Linked DNA regions of Homo sapiens. The protein of the gene in region 3 purifies or fractionates together with the protein of the main gene of each other region. This does not show direct contact. Each region holds a gene or a part of one and is shown on either strand. Other genes may lie near its edges. The genes, in order: COCH, CD109 and MMP19.

What was found.
Region 1: the proteins of MMP19 (region 3) and COCH purify together in Homo sapiens (affinity purification with mass spectrometry; one large-scale study listed by BioGRID and IntAct). This does not show direct contact.
Region 2: the proteins of MMP19 (region 3) and CD109 purify together in Homo sapiens (affinity purification with mass spectrometry; one large-scale study listed by BioGRID and IntAct). This does not show direct contact.

The regions. Positions count from the first base shown.
Region 1 is NC_000014.9:30,877,435-30,881,159, reverse strand, and holds part of COCH (cochlin isoform b precursor), read right to left. Parts: intron 3,589-3,725; coding exon 3,432-3,588; intron 2,350-3,431; coding exon 2,216-2,349; intron 1,738-2,215; coding exon 1,675-1,737; intron 709-1,674; coding exon 664-708; intron 574-663; coding exon 426-573; intron 1-425. UniProt on the Homo sapiens protein: Plays a role in the control of cell shape and motility in the trabecular meshwork.
Region 2 is NC_000006.12:73,804,203-73,807,702, reverse strand, and holds part of CD109 (CD109 antigen isoform 1 preproprotein), read right to left. Parts: intron 860-3,500; coding exon 631-859; intron 1-630. UniProt on the Homo sapiens protein: Modulates negatively TGFB1 signaling in keratinocytes.
Region 3 is NC_000012.12:55,839,922-55,844,365, forward strand, and holds the start of MMP19 (matrix metalloproteinase-19 isoform 1 preproprotein), read right to left. Parts: upstream 3,016-4,444; 5' UTR 2,910-3,015; coding exon 2,823-2,909; intron 2,518-2,822; coding exon 2,432-2,517; intron 1,316-2,431; coding exon 1,185-1,315; intron 962-1,184; coding exon 746-961; intron 1-745. UniProt on the Homo sapiens protein: Endopeptidase that degrades various components of the extracellular matrix, such as aggrecan and cartilage oligomeric matrix protein (comp), during development, haemostasis and pathological conditions (arthritic disease).

The DNA.
Region 1 (3,725 bases), on a different chromosome or scaffold from region 3:
CATTGTAACCTCTGCCTCCCGAGTCCAAGTGATTCTCCTGCCTCAGCCTCCCAAGTAGCTAGGATTACAGGTGCATGCCACCACATCTGGCTAATTTTTGTATTTTTAGTAGAGACGGTGTTTCACATGTTGGCCAGACTGGTTTTGAACTCCTGACCTCAGGTGATCCACACACCCACTTGGCCTCCAAAGTGCTGGAATTACAGGCGTGAGCCACTGCACCCGGCCTCATTTGATTTTGAATGTATCCAACACAAAGAAATGATCAATGTTTGAGGTGATGGATATGCTAATTACTCTGATTTGACCACTATACATTGTATGTATGAAAACATCACTATGTACCCCATAAGTATATATAATTATTATGTGTCAATTACAAAATAATTTTTTTTTTAAATCTCCCATTTTAACAAGGTTGGTACCTGGCTTGAACAAGGCCCACATGTGGTCCTTCTGTTCCAATTCCCAACATTAGAGCCACTTTTCCAACAAAATTCTTCTGTAAATTAAATCGGCGCTGCCCAATATTAAAGCTTCCATCAATCAGAAATGCAATGTCTGCTTTACAATCTGCGAACAACCAAACCAGTCCCCTCATTAGCAGTCTCAAGAGGAGGGAGGGAAAATGCTACCTTCCCAAATGGAGATCTTGATTCTTACCTTTATTGCCAGTTTTCTTCTCGGGTGTTTTCTTTAGTCGTTTACCTGAAATAAAAGATGCACTTGGCATTAACAAAAGGAAGACAGTTACATAGCAAGAAACCCACATGGGGAGAAGCTCATAACAACAGAGTGCCATTCTTGAAAGGACTTTTTTAAAAAAATTAATTTCCTCAGGATTTTCTGGACTAGGGAAAGCAATGACCCAACAAATAAACAAATCAGTATGTAGGCCTACATATTTGATATGCCCTAATCCAGGACTTTAATACCCCAAACCCACAGGTGAGGCAGGAACTCAACATTAAATCCTAATGTTCTTAATATCTTTGACTTTAAAACTGCCATCGTCATACAAAAGGGGATCCCTGGCTATTTCTTACAATAGACACACATTCCTTTTAGTCACATGACAGTGCAGTAATTAAAGGAATTTAATGAAGCAAATGGAACTAGAAGTTCATGGTACTTTGACCAGTTCTTAGGCGTGGTTTATCAAATCTGGGAGAAAATAGGACTTTTAGAGAATTATTAGGCTGGGTGCAGTGGCTCATGCCTGTAATCCCTGAACTTTGGGAGGCTGAAGTGGGAGGACTGCCTGAGGTCAGGAGTTCAAAACCAGCCTGGGCATCATAGCTAGACCTGTCTAAAAAAATAAAAATAAAAAAAATTAAAAATCAAAAAAATTGGCTGGGTGTGGTGGCATGTGCCTGTAGTACCACCTACTCAGGAGGCCAAGGTGAGAAGATTGCTTGAGCCTAGGAGGTTAAGGCTGCAGTGAGCTATGATTGCACCACTGTACTCCAGCCTGAGCAACAGAGTGAGACCCTGTCTTTAAAATATACACATAATGAATGTTTCCATATGTAATATACCAGTAAACTTAAGGTATTTGCTTTGTTTCTCTTTAATATCAAATTTCTTTAAGAAAAGCTTCTACCAACAACACGTTTATTCATAACTTCCAAATGCTGTGCCGGGCAACTAGGAGATAGGTTTCATAGTTCATACCTGTTGGTGGATGTGCTGTGGACACTGCTTGTCCTGTGGCCTCCTGTGTACTACTTTTGCCTTCTGTTAAAATAAAAATAAGCTTATTTTTTTCCTTTTCCTTCTTTACCAAAGTATTATGAATCTAATTTAGAGCTCTCTACAATGACAAATGTAATAGGGTAATGGTGATTGTAGTTACAAACATCCTGCTGCATGCTAGTTTCAGAGAACCAAAATGCTTATCCATTATATCTTCAAAGGATCATCAAAAATGTATTTAGTAGTTTTTCAGTTCCTTGGTAAGTGTCCGGGCATTCTGACTGCAAATAATTCAAGTTTCTATTGCCATCATCTGTCAGTAAGATTGTCTTCTATTCACCCAAATTTGGCTTCAGTGGGTACTTGACCCCTCAGTCTAACCTACAGTTTACCTCTATAGGTCAGCTTTAGTCTTGATCACAGGTTTTTCCATCAAGGTTAAAGAGGCTGAGCTAAAAAAAGCAGAAAACGTTTGGGGGGTGGGAGAATATTACAGAATGAGAACAATAATTATACCTACTAGTTACTGTGAAAGAAGCAGACCATCTAGAAAGCATTTGAGACTGGATGCCATTGGCATCTACTGAGGAATAGTTTTCTCGACCAGGTAGGCTATAGACTCGTACAGGTCCCCCTGAGTTGCTGATTACTCCCCTGTAACACAAGAATAGCAGCTGAGATGCTATCCACACTTTTTCAGGGCATCCCACTGACTTATAGTGCCATGTTGTATCTATTGCTTTGATTAATCAAGAAAATAGCTCATCAGGGAAGTCATCTAAAGATTCTGCTTTATTTATTTATTTATTTGATGGCGTCTCGCTCTGTAGCCCAGGATGGAGTGCAGTGGCGCGATCTCGGCTCACTGCAACCTCCACCTCCAGGATTCAAGTGATTCTCCTGCCTCAGCCTCCCAAGTAGCTGGGATTACAGGCATGCACCACCATACCTGGCTAATTTTTGTATTTTTAGTAGAGACAGGGTTTCACCATGTTGGCTAGGTCTCGAACTCCTGACCTCAAGTGGTCCATCCGCCTCAGCCTCCCAAAGTGGTGGGATTACAGGTGTGAGCCACCACTCCCAGCTGCTGCTAGCCTTTTAAAAACTTGCTTACACAAGAACAAAATTTGCCTGGAAAAAAATGGTTTTGTGCTGTTGAACTTCTTAAGTGTTGATAAGAACACATTTGTAATATCCCATTACCCACAACTTAGAAATTCAGAGCACCAAACAATTTTCCTAAGATACTCACTTTAGCTACATGCCTTTGGACTGAATTTTTTTAGAAGTATTATACTGGCTATTCTACTACAGGATAGCATGGCACTTGCTAACAATAGTCACCTTGGGCAAGATACTTGACAACTCTCTGAGTTCAGTTTCTTCATCTGTAACTGGAGTAAAATTCTACCTACCTTGTAGAGTTGTGGTGGAAGTTAAAACAATAGGTGGCACATAGTAATAACTCAGTAATATATCACATGATTAGGAATGTTTTGGAATCATAGCAATCTAGCCATCAAGAGGTAATGCTATTTGCCTTTTGTCAGAAAGCTTTCCATGTGTATTTGGTGTTTCAAGTATATCCAGGAGAACCGTGAAAATATATCCATTTTCTGTGGCCACAATGGCAACAAAAGAAAGAATGCAGGGAGGAAAGGGATCCAGATGGGTAAAGCAGGAAAGGAAATAATCACGTCTGCATTTCTCTCCCACCCTGGTGTGTTTGGGCTTACCTGTGGACAGCAGCCCCACATATGCTCGATACAGAAGCATATACTATGTTCCCATACACAGAGAATTCCTCAAGAGGGCAGCCCCCTGGGCAGAGGACATCTGCTTTCTCTTTCCTGATGTCCAAGCCTCTGGTAAAACATGTGATAGCAATGGGAGCTGAAGAAAAAGGAGATAATATTGTAAGCATTCTTAGGACTTCTTGGGGCATAGTGGTGGGGAGACTACAGTGTGAGATTTAAGTTTTACTTCCCTAATTTCTACACTTCTAGTTATGACTATTGACTTATATACCC
Region 2 (3,500 bases), on a different chromosome or scaffold from region 3:
GCCTACTAGTAGAATAGGAAAATAGTGGGGGTCCTAATAAAGAGAATGACTTTGGTGATCTCATAAAATGCAGCAGGCAGTAAGCAGTAAAGGCATCAATCACCAGGACAGCTCTGGAGCAAACTTAAGCTCGTCAGCATACCTTTCCACGCATACTCATTCTCATCCAGGCATCCATGCCCATTCAACACACTTTTCAGGGTATGGGTGTTCTCAGCACTAAATTAACAGATATTGTAACTGTTCCATGATGTTTTATAAGTAAAAAATCCTTTGCAATCTAAACTTGCTAGAACACATTGTCAAATTTTAAATAATTTTCTTTCCCCTCAGAAATTAACTTTTTCAATGATAAAACATGTATTGACTTATCTTACCAATAGCAAGTACAATACATACATTAAAAAGCATTTTTAGAATTCTCTTAGTTATTCTGAAAGAGTGGGTTAATGTTTTATTCTCAGATTTTGGAACATGGCCACAAATGCAAAGCAAAAGAGTACTCAAATTCAGATTTCACATGTGTTGTAAAGCTGCAACTTGTTAAGTTTCCACACACATATTTGACCCATTAAGACCTACCTTCCTTGAATTTCCCATCTATCATTTATTAAATTAAATACGAAATACCTGATACTTTCTATATCCCAGGAGAGAAGTTACAATATAGGCTGTAAGTGTTACTGGACTTTTATTGCCACCTTGAAGCTCACTATGAATCACTCTTCCTGGATCCCAAAATTCACCGTTGGATTTCTGATGTCCTTTAAGCCAAGTGTATGTTCTGTGTAACACATTCTGATCAATATCTATGTAAGGATCGGCTTCAAGGAAACATCTTAAAACAAAAGCTGACAACCTTTATGAAAAGAGAAAAAAATTACATAAAATACACTTTATAAGGTCCACCAAATAACACCGAGCAAGCAAAACAACAACACTTTTTCCCCCATCAGAAGATTCATCAAAGGGGGAATCACTGAAGATGGAACAAGGAAAGAAAAAAATCAAAAAAGAAAGAGCAAAGGGACAAGGTAAGCAACTCTCTCTAGCAGGCAGAACTGGTTTCCACTTGGGCTTGGCCAAGAAATTCCATGTTGACTCAAAAATCTCAGATTTGAAAAGGAATTTAGAAATGATCTAATCCAGCTCCATTTTTTAATTTAATTTTATTTTATTTTATTTTTATTTATTATACTTTAAGTTCTAGGGTACATGTGCACAACGTGCAGGTTTGTTACATATGTGTACATGTGCCATGTTGGTGTGCTGCACCCATTAACGCGTCATTTACATTAGGTATGTCTCCTAATGCTATCCCTCCCCCATCCCCCCACCCCACAACAGGTCCCGGTGTGTAATGTTCCCCTTCCTGTGTCCAAGTGTTCTCATTGTTCAATTTCCACCTATGAGTGAGAACATGTGGTGTTTGGTTTTTTGTCCTTGCGATAGTTTGCTGAGAATGATGGTTTCCAGCTTCATCCATGTCCCTACAAAGGACATGAACTCATCCTTTTTTATGGCTGCATAGTATTCCATGGTGTATATGTGCCACATTTTCTTAATCCAGTCTATCATTGATGGACATTTGGGCTGGTTCCAAGTCTTTGCTATTGTGAATAGTGCCGCAATAAACATACGTGTGCATGTGTCTTTATAGCAGCATGATTTATAATCCTTTGGGTATATACCCAGTAATGGGATGGCTGGGTGTGGGGAAAAGAAAGAGAGATCAGATTGTTGCTGTGTCTGTGTAGAAAGAAGTAGACATAGGAGACTCCATTTTGTTCTGTACTAAGAAAAATTCTTCTGCCTTGAGATGCTGTTAATCTGTAACCTTACCCCCAACCCCGTGCCCTCTGAAACATGTGCTGTGTCAACTCAGGGTTAAATGGATTAAGGGCTGTGTAAGATGTGCCTTGTTAAACAGATGCTTGAAGGCAGCATGCTCGTTAAGAGTCATCACCACTCCCTAATCTCAAGTACCCAGGGACACAAACACTGCGGAAGGCTGCAGGGACCTCTGCCTAGGAAAGCCAGGTATTGTCCAAGGTTTCTCCCCATGTGATAGTCTGAAATGTGGCCTCGTGGGAAGGGAAAGACCTGACCGTCCCCCAGCCCAACACCCGTAAAGGGTCTGTGCTGAGGAGGATTAGTATAAGCAGAAGGAACACCTCTTTGCAGTTGAGATAAGAGGAAGGCATCTGTCTCCTGCCCGTCCCTGGGCAATGGAATGTCTCGGTATAAAATCCGATTGTATGTTCCATCTACTGAGATAGGGGAAACCTGCCTTAGGGCTGGAGGTGGGACATGCGGGCAGCAATACTGCTCTTTAAGGCATTGAGATGTTTATGTGTATGCATATCTAAAGCACAGCACTTAATTCTTTAACCCTGAGTTGACACAGCACATGTTTCAGAGAGCTCAGGGTTGGGGGTAAGGTTACAGATTAACAGCATCTCAAGGCAGAAGAATTTTTCTTAGTACAGAACAAAATGGAGTCTCCTATGTCTACTTCTTTCTACACAGACACGGTAACAATCTGATCTCTCTTTCTTTTCCCCACAGCTGGGTCAAATGGTATTTCTAGTTCTAGATCCTTGAGGAATCACCACACTGTCTTCCACAATGGTTGAACTAGTTTATGGTCCCACCAACAGTGTAAAAGTATTCCTATCTCTCCACAACTTCTCCAGCACCTGTTGTTTCCTGCCTTTATAATGATCGCCATTCTAACTGGTGTGAGATGGTATCTCATTGTGGTTTTGATTTACATTTCTCTGATGGCCAGTGATGATGAGCATTTTTTAATGTGTCTGTTGAATCCAGCTCCATTATTTTGTAGACTGAGAATCTGACAGTCCAAGAGAGTTAAATAAATTGTCCAAGGTTATTCATCTTTGGACTGTTCTAGATATTTACCAAAGAAGAGCTCCAACACGCTTCAGTCAGCCCCAAAGCTGTGGGTGAAGAATGCATACATAGTTCACAAGCAAACTGTAGTACTTCAGGTGGGGAAAATGATATTTTTCTCTCCTATAGAATGGGAGTTAGCCAACTGCAGCCTGTGGGCCAAATCTGCCTGGCCCAAATCTGGCCCTCAAGCCAAATACAGCCCAGGGCCTGTTTATGTGTGCACCAACCCAGCCCCCACCTGCCAACACCACCACCTAAGAGCGGGTTTTAAAAGAAGGAAAAGAAAAAGACAAAGACAGGAAAGAAAGAGGGAGGAGAGGGAGGAAGAGGGAAGAGCATGCAACGGAGACTCTACGTGGCCCAAAATGCCTGAAATACTTACAATCTGACCCTTTACAGAAAAGTTTGCCAGTCCCTGCTACAAAACACTATACTGAGGTAAAAAGAACATCAAGCAATACAACACTGAAAGCTTTCTATTTATGGTTCTATATCCTGAGTCAGGCCAAGGCCAAGAGAAAATTTGAAGCAGATCTGTTTCATGTTATATAAAGTTTCATGTGGTAAACATTACTGATATTCAA
Region 3 (4,444 bases):
ATGCCCATCACTGTCCCTTACCTTCCCAGCCACTCCCTGCTCTCTGACCCAGTCCTCTCTGGCCCATACCTCTAAGGTATGCCTTGAACAGGGGAACTTAAGGGAGAAAAAGAAGCATAGGCAGCCAGGGGTGATGGCTCACACCTGTAATCCCAACACTTTCAGAGGCCAAGGCAGGAGGATTGCTTGAGTACAGGAGTTTAAGACCAGCCTGGGCAACATAGCAAAACTTCATCTCTACAAAAATTAGCCAGGTGTGGTAGTGTTTGCCTGTAGTCTCTACCTGGGAGGCTGAGGCGGGAGGATCACTTGAGCCTGGGAGGTTGAGGCTGCAGTGAGCCATGATTGTGTCACTGTACTCCAGTCTGGGCAACAGAGTGAGACTGTCAAGCAAGCAAGAGAGAGGAAGGAAAGAAGGGAGGGAGGGAGGGAGGGAGAGAAGGAAGGAAGGGAGGGAGGGAGGGAGAGAGAGAAGGAGAGAAGGAAGGGAGGGAGGGAGAGAAGGAAGGGAGGGAGGGAAGGAGAGAGAAGGAGAGAAGGAAGGGAGGGAGGGAGGAAGTTTCAAACAGGAGGCTCCATGTAGATGACCAACTGCGCCCGTGCTCCCGTTAGGAGGTAATTAGAGAGCGTATGGTGCAGGTGGGATAAAGAGCAGCCCAAACATCAAGGTTCTAGAGTCACTGGTTCAAGGAGACAGAGGTAATCTCAGAGGTCTATGAGGTGGGAACTGAGAACTGTTGCCTACCAGGCCCATCAAAAGTATTGGAACAGTACGAGCTTTGGCGGCCATGGAAGGAGAGGCGGATGTCAGCCGCACCAGCCTGCACCTCTTGGAAGGTCAAGGGAGCCACATTGCTCCAGTCCTGGAAGGCTTGACGCAGGGCTGCCCGGGCTGTGTGGGGTGGAAGGGTGGAGGGCAGGTTCAAGATGCGGAAAGTCAGGTGCTTCTTTCTCCAGCGGCCTAGTTAATGACCAGAAAACAGATTAGAAATACAGATCCTTCTGCCAACCCCAGAGAGCTCCTCTGGGTTTAGGCACTCAACCCCCAAGACAGGTGACAACCAGGTAATCACCAGGTGATTATCTATTCAACACTGAGCTGGTCCAGACTGTCCTAATGCCACCCACACGCCAGAACCACATCACCCCCTCCTCTCCCTCTCTTTTCCAGGCTCTGTTCTCACCCAGCAACAGGTATTTAAGGGTCTTCTGGTTGAAGGGATCCTCTAGGCCACAACGAGGCTGCCTCATGCGGGCCCTTGTGGCATCATCCAGCTGACCTGAGACTGGAAGTTCAGATGCTTCCTGAAAAGCTCTGAAGGAGGGAGAGGGATGGGTCTACCAGGACAGGAAAATCTGAAATGACTGGGAGATGATTGCTCTTTGACTTCCTGCTGCCCAAGTTCATGGCCAAGAATAGCACAGAATCCCTGAAGCTGACAGGGTTACTCCAGCCTCCAGTCCTCATAACTGGGACTTTCTCTTCTGTTCTGCAGAAATGGAGATACTCCAGCTTCATCTCCCCATTTTCAGTGTCTTTTATTTGAGTAAGTTTGCCCTCAGGTGTAGCCTTCCTCCTCTACTGCAATCTTCCTTCCTTCCTTCCTTCCTTCCTTCCTTCCTTCCTTCCTTCCTTTCTTTTTCTTCTCTCTTTCTTTCTTCCTTTCTTTCTTTTTTGGTAGAGATGGGGTCTCATTATGTTGCCCAGGTTGCTGTCAAACTTCTGGGCTCAAGCAATCCCCCTGCCTGGATCTCCCAAAGTGCTGGGATTACAGGCGTGAGCCACCATGCCCAGCCCCTCTACTGCAATTTCTAACCTTCTCCTACTCTGTGGAGGTGTCTGGCTCCCCTGCTCTGGAGAGCTTTCCACTAGTGCTCCCACCTGACAGCCTGTCCTCCTTCAGCCTTCTCCCTTCCTGAATGGATACCCGTCCCAGCCCAGCTTGCCCTGGAGCAATTTCATCCATCTATGGACTGTCATAGGGCCTAGGGGCTTTTCAAGGGACCTGAACATATCTGAGAGCAGAAAGAAAAATAATCCATTACATCAACATATAAAACTATAAAATAGAAATAAATAAGTACCAAATTGAAGGCCCACAAAAGGTAATAGCATGTCAACAACTCAACTCAGTTTTACATATCATTACACTTTATGTGGACTATAACTAAATATTAGTATTTGAGATATGATGTGGGTAGAGACTCCAAAGGAATGCTTATGGCCTAGGAAGATCCAATGCCTGTATTCCTCATCTGTGAATCCCCATCTCACCCCATGCCCCACCACCATAATAATGATCGCCACCCATCTCTAAATCCCTGGCATGGTTTAGGGTCAGGAGGAGGTGGGCCTGGGGAGAGGAAGGGATGAGAAGGAAGAAGACCTTGAGACCTTAGCCCTAAAGGCATACACCTCATAGCTTCTCACCTCAGAGCCTCGGTGATATCTTCTGGCTTGAAGTTATTAGATCCTTCTAGAGGCTTCTGTAGGTACCCATATTGTGACAGGTAGTCCTATGATGGGAGTGGAGGTAAGCAGGTTAAAAGGGGGTTAGTCTCAGAGTAAAGCTTCTAAGTGACCTAACAGATCCATCAGGAGAGGAGGGACCTGATATGGAAGCACTAATGGAGAAGCACCTTAGAGAAGGGGCTCAGGTGGAACAAGGGGAAGCAGCGGGAGATGGGCAGGGTAGACCATGGGGCAGAGAGAGCAAGGGAAAGGCAGGCAGGCTGAAGGTCAGGAGGGAGGCTTCGATGGGGCTGTGGAGCAGTAACCCCTGTCCCTCCGCTGGCCCAGGTCTCTTTCTTGGGGGACTTACCACAGGCGCCACCTCTGCAAGCCCCAGGACCCGGCCTGAGACTGTCATGGGGAGTAGGAAGCCCAGCCACAGCTGCTGGCAGTTCATGGTCCCACCAGACGAGAGCTCCAGAGGCTGTCCGTGCCTCTGACCTGAGATTTCTGGGAGCCTTGGGGGAGCAGTGCTAGGCAGAGGGGCTCTTACCCCCAGTTCTTTTTACTCTCCAGCCTCTAGTCCTCTTTATAACAGCTGAGGGGAATTTGGGGGAGAGGCAGAGGGAGGTGACTCAGCCAAGAGATATGTTGCAATTCACCATTAACCCTTGCCCTACCAGAGAGCGGAAGCCAAAGAGAGTTCCCAATCGCTTCCCTCAGAGTCCTCTGCTGGAGATGGAAAAACTTCATACTGCCCTAGGGTGAGCATCCAGGCAGGACGAGAACCAGAATCTCTGGAGAGACTAGAGATAGGGATCATGGACATCCCCTGGAATTAGACATCAATGTGCCTCAGGGACCCTGGGCCAGCAAATCACTCCGCCCCTACCTTTGAGTCTCCCTAGAATAAGCTGAGAGGTAGGAAACAGCTGAGGTAGCTTGGGTTTCAGGTGAAGGAGTCAAGCGTGAAGTCTCAGTTTCTTTGTACCCAAGACCAAGTTGGGAATATAGATGCTCCTGCAACCTACTTATGTCTGCTTTAATAAAAAGTCATTATTTCAAGAATCTAATGAGCCTGGAATATGTGGGTGTAGGTGGGACTTAACAAGGGCACAAATAAGTAAAGGGCCCAGAGCCTACCCTCAGGGAGCTTACGGATCCAGTGAGGCAGATCCAGACACCTGGGAAGAGGGGAGCCAGCGTGCCAGGCCAGAGGTGATTCACCCTAAGGGGCTTGGGGCTGGGGGGAGGTTTGCTGAGAAGTCAGGCTTTGAGATGGGCTTTGAAGGCCAGCTAAGAATTGATGGGGTAAGGCCAGGCATGGTGGCTCGCTCCTGTAATCCTAGCACTTTGAAAGGCTGAGGTGGGTGAATCACTTGAGATCAAGAGTTCGAAACCAGCCTGACCAACATGGTGAAACCTTGTTTCTACTAAAAATACAAAAATTAGCCAGGTATGGTGGCGGGCGCCTGTAATCCCAGCTACTCGGCAGGCTGAGGCAGGAGAATCACGTGAACCCAGGAGGCAGAGGTTGCAGTGAGCTGAGATCACACCATTGCACTCCAGCCTGGGCAACAGAGCAAAAACTCCATCTCAAAAAAAAAAAGAATTGATAGGGTAAAAGGATACTGAGAGACAGACAGTGCAGGTCTTGAGTAAAAGTGCAGAGCTGAGAGACTGCTGTACTCAGTAAGTCAGAAGGGTCACGACTGCTTCATTCACCACTGAAGCCCGAGTGCCTACCCCAGGCCACCTCCATGCTTTCGAGGCTGTGCTTAATAAATCACTGTCAAAGAATGACCAGGGTGGGAAAGTGGTTGGGAGACAGAATTTGGAGAGGGCCTTAAATGCTATGCAAGGAAAAGAAGAAAAACTTACATTTAAAAATACCGGACGGGAGCAGTGGCTCACGTCTGTAATCCCAGCACTTTCGGAGGCTGAGGTGGGCGGACCATGAGGTCAGGAGTTTGAGACTAGCCTGGCCAACAT